2 separate regions of the Homo sapiens genome follow, and region 1 is linked to region 2. Evidence: fine-mapped expression QTL. Tissue or cell type: whole blood. Region 2 holds a variant in brackets; the other region holds the start of a gene. All regions are shown on one strand. Distances are between the middles of the regions.

What was found. PIP is the estimated chance that this variant, and not a neighbour inherited with it, causes the effect.
Region 1: it holds the start of CTNNA1, and the variant in region 2 is fine-mapped to the expression of CTNNA1 in whole blood (TOPMed, PIP above 0.99).

The regions. Positions count from the first base shown.
Region 1 is chr5:138,750,108-138,758,196 of GRCh38, forward strand. It overlaps CTNNA1 (catenin alpha 1), which reads left to right and starts at 3,318. Exons shown (of 18, transcript NM_001903.5): 1 at 3,318-3,403. It overlaps CTNNA1-AS1 (CTNNA1 antisense RNA 1), which reads right to left and starts at 3,817. Exons shown (of 2, transcript NR_134244.1): 1 at 3,416-3,817. RefSeq lists a silencer at 3,208-3,647 and enhancers at 3,351-3,918, 3,919-4,485.
Region 2 is chr5:138,637,739-138,645,842 of GRCh38, forward strand. No RefSeq gene overlaps it. Among named protein-coding and RNA genes, the nearest start is that of HSPA9, 66 kb to the left of the region's middle. RefSeq lists enhancers at 3,510-4,063, 4,064-4,617, 4,187-4,266, 4,277-4,356. The variant G/A (reference allele first, on the strand shown) is at 3,831.

The sequences.
Region 1 (8,089 bases), 110 kb after region 2:
GCGGTGGCTTATGCCTGTATCCCAGCACTTTGGGAGGCTGAGGCAGGCGGATCACCTGAGGTCAAGAGTTCGAGACCAGCCTGGCCAACACGGTAAAACTCCGTCTCTACTGAAAATACAAAAATTAGCCGGGCGTGGTGGTGTGCACCTGTAATCCCAGCTACTTGGTAAGCTGAGGCAGGAGAATCGTTTGAATCCAGGAGGTAGAGGTTGCAGTCTGGGTGACAAAAGTGAAACTCCGTCACACACAGACACACACACACAAAAAAAAAAAAAAAAGAAAAGAAAAAAGAAAAAACGTTTAATTGGCTCATGGTTCTGCAGGCTGTATAAGCAAGGCCTGGGCATCTGCTCTACTTTCTGGAGAGGCCTCAGGGAACTTTTACTCATGGTGGAAGGTGAAGCTGGAGCAGGCACATTACATGCTGAAAGCAGGAGCAGGAGGGGGCTGAGGTGCCACATCTTTTTGTTTTTGAGACAGGGTCTCACTCCGTTGCCCAGGCTGGAGTGTAGTGGCACAATCATGGCTCACTGCAGCCTCAATCTCCCCAGGCTCAGGTGATCTTCCCACCTGAGCCCCCCAGGTAGCTGGGACTACAGGCACACACCACCATGCCTGGCTTTTTTTTTTTTTTTGAGACAGACTTTTGCTTTTGTTGCCAAGGTTGGAGTGTAATGGCGTGATCTCGGCTCCACCTCTGCCTCCCAGGTTCAAATGATTCTCCTGCCTCAGCGTCCCGAGTAGCTGGGATTACAGGCACATGCCACCATGCCCTGCTAATTTTGTACTTTTAGTAGAGATGGGGTTTCACCATGTTGCCCCAGGCTGGTCTTGAACTCCTGACCTCAGATGATCTGCCCGCTTTGGCCTCCTGAAGTGCTGGGACTATAGGCGTGAGCCACGGTGCCCAGCCTGCTTGGCTAATTTTTTTGTATTTTTTTGTAGAGATGGGTTTTTACCATGTTGCCCAGGCTGGTCTCGAACTCCTGGGCTCAAGCTATCCGCCCACCTTGGCTTCTCAAAAGTGTTGGGATTACAGGTGTGAGCCACTGTGCCTGGCCGGTGCTACACTTTAAAACGACTACATTTCATGAGAATTCCCTTAGTACCTGGAGGACAGCACCAAGCCATGAGGGATCCTCCTCTATTACCCAAATGCCTCCCACCAGCCCCACCTCCAACACTGGGGATTACATTTCAATGTGAGATTTGGGCAGGGACAAATATCCAAAATATATGAATTATGTTCTGAGTTAGCCAGGTGAAGTAGAGGGACGCCAAAGCCACTCTAGGCAGAGGAGACTACAGGAGCAAAGACCCTGCAGCCAGAAACAGGACAGGGGTAGTTGGACAAGAATGACCTTGTCAGGGTTTGCCTTTTTCTTTTTCTTTTTGAGACAGAGTCTCACTGTGTTGCCCAGGCTGGAGTGCAGTGGTGCAGTCATGGTTCACTGCAGCCTTGAACTCCCAGGCTCAAGCGATCCTCCCACCTCAGCCTCCCAAGTAGCTGGGACTACAGGTAGGTGCCACTACACCCAGCTATGTTTTTGTATTTTTTTGTAGACAAGGGTTCTATCATTTTGCCCAGGCTGGTCTCCTGAGCTCATGTGATCCACCCATCTTGGCCTCCCAAAGTGCTGGGATTACTTGTGTGAGCCACTGTGCCCATCCTCTTTTTCTTAAAGGTTGTTCTCTCCCCACTTCATGGTCCTATTGCCCTTTGTCAGCATCTGTTAACTAGCACAGGCCCACAGTACTTTGAATTACAGTGGGCACATTCACCCACAGATGTTCACTAGGCACTCCCTAGGGGATGGGCAATGTGCTGGGTGCTGCAGGAGATACAGCTCCTGCTTTCCAGAAGTTTATATTCCCTTGGGGGAGAGGGAGATGTGAGGAGTAGAGGGTAAACACGGTAAGGGCAGGTCTCCCTAGCACCCTGCTCTCTATTCAGCACAAGGCCAGCAGTGGACATCGTCGTCTTGCATTATTCAGGTTTATAGGCCAATACTGAAATCTATCTTATTCATCATCCCGTGAGCAGGGGAAACATCATTAGGGTTTTCTATACCAGGATGATAGTGAGCATGTAGTAGTTTTTGTTTTTTTGTGTTGTTTGTTTGCTTTGTAATTTTGTTTTCTTTTGTTTTTGGAGTATTCACTATGAAGATAAGAAAGGGTAAGAATAAAATGCCCCAAATGACCAGAGGAATAGAGATAGAAGTCAGGTCCCTCAAATTTGTTGGAGGAGGGGGACAAGCTGGGAGGGGGGACGTGCTGGGGGCGGGGCGGGAACAAGCCCAAAAAGGGACAGCTGCTGCGGTGCCTCTTTTGTGTTTGTAAATGTCCTCCCCGCAAGGTGGCTCTAGCCTGTAATCCCAGCACTTTGGGAGGCTGAGGAGGATTTCTTGAGCCCATGAGTTTGAGACCAGCCTGGCAACATAGTGAGACTCTGTGTCTGTAGTTCCAGCTACTCCGGAGGCTGAGGTGGGAGGGTCGGTTGTCCAGGGATTTGAGGCTGCAGTGGGCCGTGATCGCGACACTCCACCCCAGCCTGGGCGACAGAGGGAGACCCCGTCTTAAAAAAAAAAAAAAGTCCTTGATCAAGAGGGCTTCGGGTGTTTCCATCTGTGGAGTGAGGGGACGGGTTAGGTGAATTCTAGGGGCGCTTCCACCTCACATTATGAAAGGTCCTGAGAGTCAGATTCTAGTTCCACTGTGTCCCGAAGCTGTGGGGCCTTTCCTTAGCCTCCGCTTCTCCTTCTGTAAAGCCAGGTAGTTGGCCTAGATCACTTTTCCAGAAGACTGTGACTCCGGGACACCTGTGACACTCTTGAGGGGAGCGTGCCCAGTACCCCTGGTCGCGTCTCTGGGATTCCGCCGGGGTGGGGGCCCGCGCGAGGCCGCCCCTGAGCCTCACCTGTGCGCGGAGCGGTGACTCACCTGCCCTCGCGCAGCCCTCTCCGCCCGCGGGCTGTTCCAGGAGTCACCGCTCCTCCTCCCTCTCAGGGGTCACTCCCGGCCTAAGCTCCCACTAGGGGCCGGGGAGGAAGGAATTCTGAGGTGGGCGGCGGGGAGGAAGAGGTCCCTCGGGGGTCCCGGTCCGGCGTTGCCAGACTCTCTTCGCGGTGGGGGCCTTCCCTTTCCCCAAAAGCGGAGGCCGGAACGGCCGGGAGGAGCGGGCGGGGCGGCGGCGGGAGGCGCCGGGAAGAGCGAGTCGGAGGGAGGTGCCAGGAAGGGCGGGCGGGGCCGGGACAGGGGCGGGGGCCGCGGGCGGGGGGCGGGCCGGGGGCGGGGGCGTGGGGCGGCCCATTTCCTCCTCCTAGCCGGACTGGAGGGAGACAAAGCAGCGCCCGTCTGCTTCGGGCCTCTGGAATTTAGCGCTCGCCCAGCTAGCCGCAGGTAACTTCGTACCTCCCTCCTCGCGGGCGCGGTCTCTCGGGCCAGGCCGAGAGGGTCCTTGGGCCGGGCCGTCCCAAGCTGGGCCCCGCGAGCCGCGGGCGGGCGAGCGGGCGGGGCGCGGTTTCTTTGGCGACGTCGCCGGGAATTGGGCCCCGGGCGGGCGTGGGACCCGCGTCGGGCCGGCGGTCCCTTCCCCCGCAGGGCCCGAGTATGGGGCCCGGGCGGGCACGGCCGGCGCTTCCCAGCGCTCGGGAAGTCGGGGGGCCGCCTGGGCTGGGGAGGAGAAACTATAGGCCCAGCGCCGCCGCCGCGTTTCCTCTTGGAAAAGTTTTCTCGCGGTTTCCAAACTTTGTTACCGCGGCCTCGGCGCGCGCGGCAGCCCCGCGCCGGGCCCCTCGGCCGCCTTCCTTCCCTGGGGCGGCTTGTCTGGGAGCCGCTTTCCCGGGAAGTGATTGTCGTCCGGCTCCGAGGCGTTCCTGCCCCCTCCCCCTTCCCGGCCGCTGAGACTTCCCGATGGGGCGGCGGGGACGCGGGCTCGGCGAACCGGGAGGCTGGAGCCCGGGCTTCTCCCATACAGCTTCGCCGTAGGTGGGCCACACCCGTGTGGACTTTTGGCGTGACCGTCCACTTGGACTCGGGGATTACTCAGCTTTCCTGGGTTTCTTGTCGGTTGGACGCACTTAGCTTTCAGCCCTAGTTTTCAGGAGTGGCATTAGAGAGGTTTTTTTTTTTTTTTAATTGTTGTTGACTTTTAAAGGAGCGTGTGTGTGCGTGCGAGTGTGAAGCACTTGTTGGAAAAAATGTTGCCTGAATGAATGCCTGACCTTTGCTTGGCAGCAGTGGCTTCCCAGTAATGCAGGCGGCGGTTGGCCCAGTTCCAAGGTTGACTCCCTCTTACGTCCTCTTGCATCTTGGTGACATTTTTTTGGTGCGTGTGTTTTGTACAGAATTTACAATTATTTGGAAAAGAGCGAGATATGTCAAGTCTACGACTAAATTCGGGGCATTTTATATTTATGATGAAGGAAATGCTTACATCATTGTTGGGACAGGATAGGCATTTTGTGGAGCGAATATTTGTGTTTAGTCAGCAGTGATTTTTAAATACTGGACAGGTGGGTGTTACTTTAAGGAACGGAATTTATAAATCGAATTAATTAGGATGTGTTATTTTGTTTTACAGGAAGAATGAAGAATGAGTGTAGGAGTTACCTATAGTTTCTGCCTAATTATTTACCAATCTGGACTTTTGAACAAACATTTTTTTTAAAGACGGGGTCTCCGTCGCCCGGGCTGGAGCGCAGTGACACGATCATGACTCACTGCGGCTTCTGTCTCCTGGGCTCAAGTGATCCCCCCACCTCGGCTTCCGAAGTAGTTGGGACTACAGGCACGCGCCACCACATCCGTCTAATTTTTGTATTTTTGGTAGAGATGGTGTCTCGCTGTCTTGCCCAAGCTGGTCTCGAACTCCTGGGCTCAAGTGGTCCTCCTGCCTCAGCCTCCCAAAGTGTTGTGATTACAGGCCTGAGCCAGGGTGCCTGACCCCATCTGGATATTTATTCAGCGAAAGAATAATTTTTTAATCCACCTAAGAGCTCACAGTGTAATAGGGGAGACACACACCCCAGGTGTAGTACAGAGCGGACTGCAGTAAGTGCCTTAACAGTACTAATGAAACTATTGTCTGAGTCAAATCTTACCTAATAGTAACAACAAAAGAAACTTGTAGAGGCACGGAGAGGGGGCTAATAAGTTTTACTTGGGTAAGTCCAGAAAGGCTTTCAGGAGGTGGTGGCATTTGATCTGGATGAAACATGAGTCGAGTTTTTTTTAAGTGAAGGGAGAAAGTCATGAGAAGCATAAAAGGGCATAGGAGTTTGGGGAATTGTGATATCACTCTCCTGGTTTTCTTTTCCTTTTGACTCATCTCAGTTTCTTTCTTTTCCTCGCCCTCACTCTTTCCTCTCGTACCCAGGGTTCTTTCCAAAGTATCTTTGTCCTCCACACCACTGATGTGGCATCACCTTCACTCCCATCAGTGATATCTCATTTCATATAGTGACTTAGAGATGAGAGGTACCCTCCTCCAAGATGAGAATCACTGCTCTGTGCAGTCTCTTCTGTCATCAGCCTTATGTGCTAAAAGTCCAAGCCTTTGAGTGCAGGTGTGTCTCCTGACCCACATGGTCACCTGTGCATTGGGAAGCTTTTTGGGTGTCCCAGGCTTCTCAAACTCAAGGTGTCCAAAGTGGGACTCCTGTCTCTTCTGGAGACATGAACCAGATGTGGAGATCCAGGGTAACTGCCCTGCCCGGGTTTTGGGATTTCCTTCTTTTTTTTTTTTTTTTTTTTTTTTTTTTTTTTTTTGATGGAGTCTCCCTGTGTTGCCCAGGCTGGGGTTCAGTGAGGTGATCTCAGTTCACTGCAAACTCCACCTCCTGGGGATTCAAGCGATTCTCCTGTCTCAGCCTCCGGAGTAGCTGGGATTACTAAGTGCAAGCTACCACGCCCGGCTTATTTATTTATTTATTTATTTATTTATTTTGAGATAGTCTTGCTGTGTCTCCCAGGCTGGAGTGCAGTGGCATAATTGCGGCTCACTGCAACCCGTGCCTCCTGGGTTCAAGCAACTCTCCTGCCTCAACCTCAAGGAGCTGGGATTACAGGTGTGTGCCAACATGCCTGCCTAATTTTTTTGTATTTTTGATAGAGAGGGTTTCACCATGTTGGCCAGGCTGGTCTCAAACTCCTGACCTCGTGATCCACCTCGGCCTCCCAAAGTGCTGGGATTGCAGGCTTCAGCCACCGTGCCCAGCCTGATTTTTTAATTTTTAGCAGAGATGGGGTTTCATCATATTGGTGAGTCTGGTCTTTAACTCCTGACCTCAGGTGATCCACTCGCCTCAGCCTCCTAAAGTGCTGGGATTACAGGTGTGAGCCACCGCACTTTCGGATTTCTTTGAGAACGTAACTCACTGTGGGGCATAACAGACAGCCCTGATTGTTGGGGGTAGTGTTGTGTGCTGGTGAGAATATGGAGAGAAGGAACAGGGCCCTCTGCATTTGTAGAGGTCCTGAGACAGGAAAGACTCCGTGTGTTTAGAGACTTGAGAGAAGACTTGTATAGCTTGGGTACTTTTTCAGTGGGGAGAAGACCTCACATGAGATTGCCAGAGAAGGCAGAGGCCATGTTGGGGTTTTATTCTAGAGGTGTAAGAAGCCATTGTAGGGAGTTTCATGATTTGATTTCCTTTTTAAGACTCCTGCTAGTGCTTGGAGAAGGCTTGTGTTTGTGTGCATGTGGAAGCAGAGAGTTGAGCTAGGAAGATGGTGGAGTACGAGGTGGTAGGGATGAAGGGAGCTGTATTTTGGAGAAATGAGACAGGACTTAAATATGGATTGGGGCTGGACAGGGAGGCTCATGCCTATAATCCTGTTTTTTTGGGAGGCTGAGTTGGGAGGATCACTTGAAGCTAGGAGTTCAAGACCAGCCTGAGCAACTTTATGAGACCCCGCCTCTAAAAAAAAAAAAATCAACCAGGCATGGTGACACGCTCTGTAGTCCCAGCTACTCAGGAGGCTGAGGTGGTAGGATTCATTGCTTGAGCTTGGGAGGTGGAGGTTGCAGTGAGCTCTGATCATGTCACACTGCAGCCTGGGTGACAGAGTGAGACCCTGTCTCAAACAAAAGAAAAAAAGGGAGGAAGGGAGGGAGGAAGGAAGGAGAAAGAAAGAAAACAGAATGGTGGTTGTTAGGGGCCAGGTGAAGGGGAATAGGGAGCTATTGTTATGGGTACAGAGTTCGGTTTGGGAAGATGAAAAAAGTTCTGGAAATGGATCGTGAATATATGTAATGCCGCTGAGGCATACAGTATTTAAAAACAGTTCAAGGCTGCTGTGAACTATGATCATGCCCCTGCACTCCAGCCTGGGCAACACAGTGAGACCCTGACTCAGAAAAAAAGAAAATGGACTGGATGTTGGGGGCCTAGGGTAAAGTTGCTTCCTCAGTGATTCCCTTCTACTCTCCCAACATAACCTTTCATGATGAGCTTTTAGTCATATCTTAAGACTCAGCACTTTCGTTTCTGGTAGCAAATTTTTTAGCACTGGGTGGTGCATTACATTATGCTGTACGTTATTATTGATGTACCTGTTTGCCTTTACTGCTAGGAAGGGAGCCTTGTAAGCTCCTTGAAGGCAGGAACTGAGAGTCTTAGTTCTTGTCTTGGTGCTTAGTACCTGGCATGGAGGGCAAATTAGATGCTTGTTGAGTGAAGGAGGAAAAAGTCTTTTCTGCCTGGAGTCTAGCTTGTGGATGGAATGATAACAGATGAGGCAACAGTCAGATTATGGAGGGCCTCCAATAACAAATTTGGGCAAACTGAGAACCATCTACAGCCCATTCTTCTTCCTTGCCACCCAGATCTAATCACTGATGAAATCCTCTCCATGCAGTCCTCAGCTTATGTGTAATATATTCTTTTTTTCTCCTATTTCTTTTTTTTTTGAGATGGAGTTTTGCTCTTGTTGCCCAGGCTGGAGTGCAATGGCGTGATGTCGGCTCACTGCAACCTCTGTCTCCTGGGTTCAAGTGATTCTTCTGCCTCAGCCTCCCAAGTAGCTGGGATTACAGGCATGTGCCACCACACCTGGCTAATCTGGTATTTTAATTTTATTTAT
Region 2 (8,104 bases):
CCTGTAATCCCAACACTTTGGGAGGCCAAGGCAGGCAGATCACTTGAGGCTAGGAGTTCAAGACCAGCATGGCCAACATGGTGAAACCCTGTCTCTATTAAAAATACAAAAATTAGCTGGGCATGGTGGTGCACACCTGTAATCCCAGCTACTTGGGAGGCTGAGGCAAGAGAATTGCTTGAACCTGGAAGGCAGAGGTTGCAGTGAGCCAAGATGGCGCCACTGCACTCCAGCTTGGGCCACAGAGTGAGACTCTCTCTCAAAAAAAAAAAAAAAGAAAAAGAAAAAGAAAAAAAAATCTGTTGTTTATAAGCCACTCCATTTACAGTATTTTGTTATAGAAGCCTGAACTGACTAAGGCAGTTCCACTAGACAACTCAAACCACTGCAGCTCTCCCAGATTCTGGAAAGGAAAGATATCCCACTCCACCCCCACTCAATGAAACACTTGAGACAGGAGGTGAGTTTCTGCTTCAGAAGGACATGGAGTCATGCTTTAAAAAGGACTATAGAAAAAACAAACAGGCTGGGTGCAGTGGCTCATGCCTGTAACCCTAACACTTTGGGAGGCCAAGAAAGGCCGATCACTTGAGCCCAGGAGTTTCAGACCAGCCTGGCTAATGTGCTGAAACCCCGTCTCTACTAAAAATACAAAAATTAGCCAGGCGTGGGTGTGCGTGCCTACAATCCCAGCTATTCAGGAGGCTAAGGCAGGAGAATTGCTTGAACCTAGAAGGTGGAGGTTGCAGTGAGCTGAGATTACACCACTGCACTCCAGGCTGGGCAGCAGAGCGAGACTCCATTTCAAAAAAAAGAAAAAACAAACAGATTGGGTGCAGTGCCTCATACTCTTGATCCCAGCACTTTGGGAGGCCGAGGTGGGCAGATTGCTTGTGCTCAGGAGTTTGAGATCAGCCTGGGCAACATGGCAAAAACCCATCTCTACAAAAAACACAAAAAAATTAGCCAGGTGTGGTGGTGCACACCTGTGGTCCCAGCTACTTGGGAAGCTGAAGCATGAGGCTCACTTGAGCCCAGGAGGCGGAGGTTGCAAACAACATAAGAGAAACAACATAAGAGAAACCATCAAGTGCCAGTGACTGGTTCTTGTTCATTCTCCCCTCGTTTATGGGAACTTCAGAGCCTGGAAGAGGTAGAGCACCTCTAAGGGGGACACCACACAAAGCCACCACACTAAGCCACCACTGTCATCAGAGCCACAGGGCTGGACAGTGCTGACTTTTCTCCTACTCGGAGGGGAAAGCCTATATGGACACCTGTATTCCAGGCCACCAACAAGCCCGATGGTTGTCCAAGAGCTCAGGGCCTCCTCTCTCCTGCCTTTTCTATTCTGGTTCCTCAGCCTCAGGTCTGAGCCATGGGAAACCCTCTCCAATCTGCTGCAACAGAACATCACAAACTGCTCCTGTTGTGGTCTGGGCTGCCAGTTCCCTAGCCTGCTGTTGCTACTGGAAGAAGACTATGACATCAGTAATCTCTCCCCATGCCAGTCCCTTTGTAGGTGGAAGGTGCCCATTTGAAAAGAATCACATCTAAAGCAGACAATTCAAAGCAATAGGGACAATGAAGGAAGCAAGAAGTGCCAACTGGGTGAAGCCGTGTTTCAGCCAGGCCCCATTATGCCTACACTTTTCTCAAGGCCCAGCCTCCCCACATGGCCGGTTCAGGCCCATCTGCCCAGCTCTCTTCCCCTTGCCTGCTCCTGGGCCCTGTCAAAATGCCAGCTCTTCCCTTCTCTGTCCCCTCTGCCTTCCAGGCTCCACCTGGCCCATCCCCAAGATGTCCAAACCTCCCAGCTGGAGGCTGGATTAGCAGCAGGCAGGGTAAGCCCGGCTGGGGCTAGAACAGTAGGTCTGAGCTGATGAACCTGTGTTCCAGAGCCAAGGGTAGATGGGAACACTAAGCAATTGAAATGTCACCTGCTTCCTGCTCCCCCCTCCCTACCAGGACATGATCTCCCTAAAGGCAGACTTTGGAGATGGAAGACCTGTGCTTGACTCGGATCTGTCCCTTTCTAGCAGCTAGCTTTGTACAAGTTAGACCCTCTAAGTCTCCACTTCCTCCTTTGTAAAATGAGGGCAGTAATTGGGGTAATTTGAGAAGGAATGGTAAATTGGTAGCTGAGGTACAGCTCTTAGCTTTTAGTTATCCTTCTCATGCCCTGCCCTTTCTGTCACCCTGGGCACTGGTCATGCAGGAGATGCTCTCTTGGCTGCTAGGGGGGTTGGGATGCCCCAGGAGGCAGCCCGCACCTTGCCAAGGAGCAGCCGGAGCCCTGAAACCTCCAGGAAGGGGTGGAAAAGCCTCTATCTGTGCTGTCTTTCCACAGAACCAAGGGAGAGGGTGGCCAAGAACTTAGGTGAGAAGAGGCACTGTGGGTGGCGGGGTGGGGTGGGGGCTCATTTCCATAGTTTTGTCCCAGAAGAATGTGCTGGGTATTTTTCCTGCTTTGCCCTGGCCAGGTTTGAAGGAGGAATCCCTGCTGGAGATTGATGTCACAGGCTTGCCTTCCCCTCCCCAGCTTCATCCTTGTGATTTAAAGAAATTATTTGGACATAGAAGTTAATGGAAGTAGGTTGCTAGTGTGTGGGCGAATCCATCACTGTCTCCCAGCATTCCAAGAGTGGATCTGTCTTTCAGGGTGAGATATCCTAGAGCGACTTTCCAAGGTCTGAGAAATAGAGTCTACCTTGGGAGGACAGGGCCGGGGGCATTGTGGACAGGGATTTTAGAAAGCTGGGGTGACTGCACGCTACTTCTAGGGCCTGGCTGGAGGACTTTCTTTACTTATGGGGGAAGGGAGGGAGACGGTATTGGCACGGATGGGGATGCTGCTTCTCTACCTCCGTCCCCAGCTGTCTTCTGCCCCAGGAAGTGGATAGGAAATAGACGGACACATCCCCGCAGTCCACTGCTCAGGATGAGGAGGGCTGATTTTGCAGCTGTCAGTGGCAGTGATGAAAGAGGTGGAGGTGAGGGGAGGAGGGGGTGCTGTTTGATGGAGCAGTGCTGTCGGGGGAAGAGGACTAGCTCCCCTTCCTTCCATTCCCCCATTCTCTCAGCTCAGCACTTCCTGGAGGTAGCATTCTGGGAGGGAGCTGCTTTGAAAGCACAAAGAACTAGTGCTGGAAGGCTGAGGGGTGGGGAGGTGTGAGGAGGAGAAGATAAGTATTCAGGAGGGGGCAGACTGCCCCTCAAGCCCCACACACAGCCAGGCCTTCTCCACAGCCTAAGTATGTGATGTGTGTGTGTATGTGTGTGTGTCCACGCCTACATGTAGTGCGAGCATGGACTTGCAGCTATGAAGTGTTGACAGGGAGAGTGACTAGGGACAATGCAGAAGCTGTTCTCCACCGGGCAGATGGCTCCTCTCAGGTACTTGCTCGGGTCTTCCTCTCTCCACTCCTTCAGTTCTCTCTCCACTCCTTCTCCTTGTTTTGTCTTTCTCCTCCTCAGTTTCTCAGCATCCCCTTTGCTTTCCCCCTCCCTCTCTTCTAGCTGTCATTCAGATGCAGCAAGATGGATTTAAATCAGACTGAAGATCCAATGTGGACTCTATATGGCAAATAAATAAATTAATTAATTTAAAAAAATCAGACTAACGAATAAACTGGGAAAGGGCAGCTGCAGATGGTCCAGGAGAGAGAATCCTGTAGGTTATGGAATGTTAGAACTAAACACCAGAGGAGTCTGCGGGTCTCTTCTGCACCTGTACACAGGAAGCTGGAGGTCCTTTGGGAAACATGTCTCATTGGCTCTGGGGGCAGTTGCTGGGGAGAAGCAGCATCTCCCCTCTTGTGCTTCCCATG[G/A]CTGGCTGATCCCCCGACAACACACTCATAGCCCTGAGATAATTGACTGTCTCAGCCCTTTCTTTCTTAGGCTCAGAGGAAGAGCCTGGTCTTTCTACACAGACCATGACTTTTCTCATGAAGCTGGGGACATCTGCAGGCTGGATGGCCTCCAGAGCTCTAGGCATGTGCCCAGAGGCCAGGCTGCCAGGCCCAGGTATGACAGCCTAGGCGTCCTCTCAGGTCGACTGCGCTTTAGACATTCTCCTCCTTGGTCCCTGATCCCCCTTGAGGAAGTCCAGCTCTGATTCAGGCTGTGGCAGTATCGGGGGGCAGCCTAAAGTGAGGACCCTTCTGGTAGGGCCTGCTCCTGCAGCGGCTGTCTTTGGGCATTGTGATTAGAATCTACTTTAATCATTCTTTCTCCCCGCCCCCCACACTGGTTTCAGCCAAACCAGACAGAAGGGGGCGCTCCTGAGTCATCCGAGAAGAGGATTCTGGGCTGATGCCTTAGCCCTGGCTCAGGGAACATCGGAAATTTTGTCTGTTCATCCATCAATCTGAAGGTGACTGGTGCGGTCACCTCGTTCTCTTTCTTCCTTTGCTTTCTTTCTTAAGAGATAGCGTCGGCCTTTCTTAAGAGATAGGGGGTGGTGGCTCACGCCTGTAATCTCAGCACTTTGGGAGGCCAAGGCGGGTGGATCACTGGAGGTCAGGATTTCCAGACCAGCCTGGCCAACGTGGCGAAACCCCGTCTCTACTAAAAGTACAAAATTAGCCAGGCATGATGGCAGGCACCTATAATCCCAGCTACTTGGGATGCTGAGGCTGGATAATCGCTTGAACCTGGCGGGCGGAGGGTGCAGTGAGCTGAGATCACGCCACTTCACTCCAGCCTGGGCGAAAGAGTGAAACTCCATCCCCCCACACCATAAAAAAAAAAGGGATAGTGTCTCACTATGTCATCCAAGCTTGCAGTGGCACGATTATGGCTCACTGCAGCCTCAAACTCCTGGGCTCAAGCCATCCTCTCACCTTAGCCTCCCTAATAACTAGGATTACAAATACGCACCATTACACCTGGTTAATTTTTACATTTTTATTTGTAGAGGTGGGGTCTATGTTGCTTAAGTGGTCTCGAGCTCCTGGTCTTGAGCAATCCTCCTGCCTCAGCCTCCCAAAGTGCTGGGATTACAGGCGTAAGTCACGGCACCCAGCCCCACTCACCTGCAGACTGACAGATGGACAATTTTTTTCTAGCAGGACCAGACAGAGACTTGGAGGAAACACTTTTATGACTTGTCCAGAGACTCCCTGGGCTGGAAGGAATCTGGCCTCTGCCTCTGGGAGATCAGCAAGTGGGGCAAGTCTTTGTCTGGGGCCACGGCCAAGGCTGGCTGGGTCCTAGGCTGGGGACAGTGTAACCCCTGACCATTTGCCAGCCCCCAGTAGCTCACCCTGGTCTGACTGTCTTGGCAGAGCTGAATGTCCCAATTTTCTTCAGAACTTTTTCCCAGGTTAATCTGTGTTGCTATTGCCCATGACCTGCTCACCACCTTCTTCATCATGAAAAAAAAAATGGCTTTCTCTCTTTCTCCCAGATCTCACAGTCCTCTGTGACTCTTCCTGGCCCCATCAGATGGGGATGGGCTGAGCCTAGAGTACTGAGCTGGTCGGCAGGGTGCAGCACATTCCTTACCTGGAGCTGACACTGTTAGGACTTTCTTCCCAGTTGTCTTCTTCGGGCTTCCTCCTCCCCACCCTGTCACCCCAAAGCCTCCCACACTTGGGAGTTTCTCCTTCCAGTAACAGGGCCTGCATGAGCACTGGCTTAGGGGGATGGGGTGGGGGGTACGATGCCTGTATCAGGTTACACAGCCCCAAAAGAAAAGGCTGGCTTTTTGGCTTCTAGCACCTCCAAATTCTCTCTGTCCAAAGGATGAGGAGCAGTCCTGGGTGTGGTGGCTGGTGTGGAGGATGGGACCTCTGGGCTGCCAACAAAGGCATTGCCAGCAGAGCTGAGGGCACAGGCCAAGTCTGGAGTCTGTGGACTTGTACTTGGGACATGCCCAAGTCATCCCTATGTCTACACCCTTCCATCTGACCAAGTCATCTGTTCCCCCAGAGCAAACTTGCCAACCCAAGACCACATGTGGCCCAGGACAGCTTTGAATGCAGCCCGATGCAAATTCATAAATTTTCTTAAAACATGATTTTTTTGCGATTTTTTTTTTTCTCACAGCTATCAGTGTTAGTGGGTTTTTTTGTTTTTTGGGGCGGGGTGGGGATGAAGTCTTGTTCTATTGCTCAGGCTAGAGTGCAGTGGCATGATCTTGGCTCACTGCAACCTCCCCGCCTCCCAGTTCAAGTGATCCTCGTCTCTCAACCTCCCGAGTAGCTGGGATTACAGGCTCGTGCCACCATGTCGGCTAATTTTTGTATTTTTGTAGAGACAGGGTTTCGCCATGTTGGCCAGGCTGGCCTTGAACATCTGACCTCAGGTGATCCACCTGCCTCAGCCTCCCAAAATGTTGGGATTACAGGCATGAGCCACTGCTCCTGGCCCATGTTAGTGTATTTTATGTGTGGCCCAACACAGTTCTTCTTCCAATGTAGCCCAGGGAAACCAAAAGATTAGACACCCCTGCCCTAGAGCCTGGCTCTGTAGAAACTCTCAGGACTTCAGGGGTCTACCTCATCCCACAGGGCCACAGGGTTGCCTTGGGGGTGGTGTGGGGTTGCCCTACCCTTTTAAAATGCCCTAAGGGTCCTGACAGCTACGGGTGGATACCCAGCCTCAGCTCCAGCCCAGCCCTACTGAGGCATTAACTCTGGAGCTCTCTAGGGCAGTAGGGGGTAGGGAAGAGGCCTTCTCTGATTGAAAATCTGAAGAGAAGAAAATTGCGTGGGCCTGTAGCCTTTTCTTTGCGTCTCTCAGCTCTTTCACCAAGGACGTTTTCCCTGAGGTTTCCTCTAAATTCTCCCAGCTGCAGATCACGGCACACACTGCAGACCCCTGAGACACCCACCTGTGAAACCAGTGTGGGAATGGACCAGTGAGGTGCACATCTGTGGGAAGGGCCAAGGATGAGGAAACTGTATCTGTTCAAAGCCCATCGCAAATCAGCTTCTTCATCCCTCTCAAAGGTCAAAAGCATGACAGGGCCCAGAGGAGTGTTGGTATTTTCAGAGGAGAAGGCAGTGAGGATTTGGGAGCAGTCCACCCTCCTCAGCCACATCTCAGATCTCCTTGCTGAAATAAGGCCTCAGCTGGACCAACAGAAGACAGGGAACTTAGGCACCTGGAAGAGGTGCAGACCTTATCCATCCTCCTGTGTGTCCCCCCACCCCAAGCCTGATACCAGGCCCTCTGTATAGGGGCAAAACTTTTTCCATTCTAAACGAACATTTACTCCTTTTCTCCAGGACACTGGGCATTAGCTGGACATCGGCCTGTTCAGGGGACCTCAGGCTTGAGACAGAAATGAGGAAGCACAGAGATCAAAGCCTCCTTCCCAGACAGGAGTGACTTTGAAGTTCACTGGCATTGCAATTAGGAATGACTTCCGCAGAGGGCAGGGATGGAGGAAAAAAAAAAGGAAAAAGGAATGGCTTCCCTGACTACAGCTCCAGAAACCTCGTTTTCATAGCCCCTACTACTTAGGGAACTGGGAGTTTGGGCCAGTTTGGTGGTGGCTCCCCAGTAGGTAATCTGAAGGCCTGGGGTGGGGGTAAGGAGGGGAGTATAGGGATCACTCCTATTAATTGACACTTCCCATGGCTAAGGTGCTGTTCAAGGCATTTTACGTGTTTTGTCTCATGAAATCTGCAAACTACTCATTGAATTAGGTCTAATCATGATTTCTATCTTACAGACAAGTAAACAGAGGCACACGCAATGATAATAAAAATCAGAATAGTAATAATAATGATAACATTTTAACAGCTTTTTAAAAAAATTTTTTAATTAAAAAGAGATGAGGTCTCACTATGTTGCCCAGGCTGATCTCAAACTCCAGGCCTCAAGCGATCCTCCCACCTTGGCCTCCCAATATGCTGGGATTATAGGTCTGAGCCACCATGCCCAGCCTTTAACAGCTTTTTTTTTCTTTTTTATTTAATTTATTATTATTTTTTAAATCAGGCAGGCTCCCAAGCCAGAGTAGGCTCAGAGAGACTCCCAAACCGCTTTAAAAAAAAAAAAAAATTGACACAGTGCCAGTCTTGGTGCAAGCACATGATGTATATGGTACTATTAAATCCTAAGAATTCATCATATTATCCCGATTTTCAGC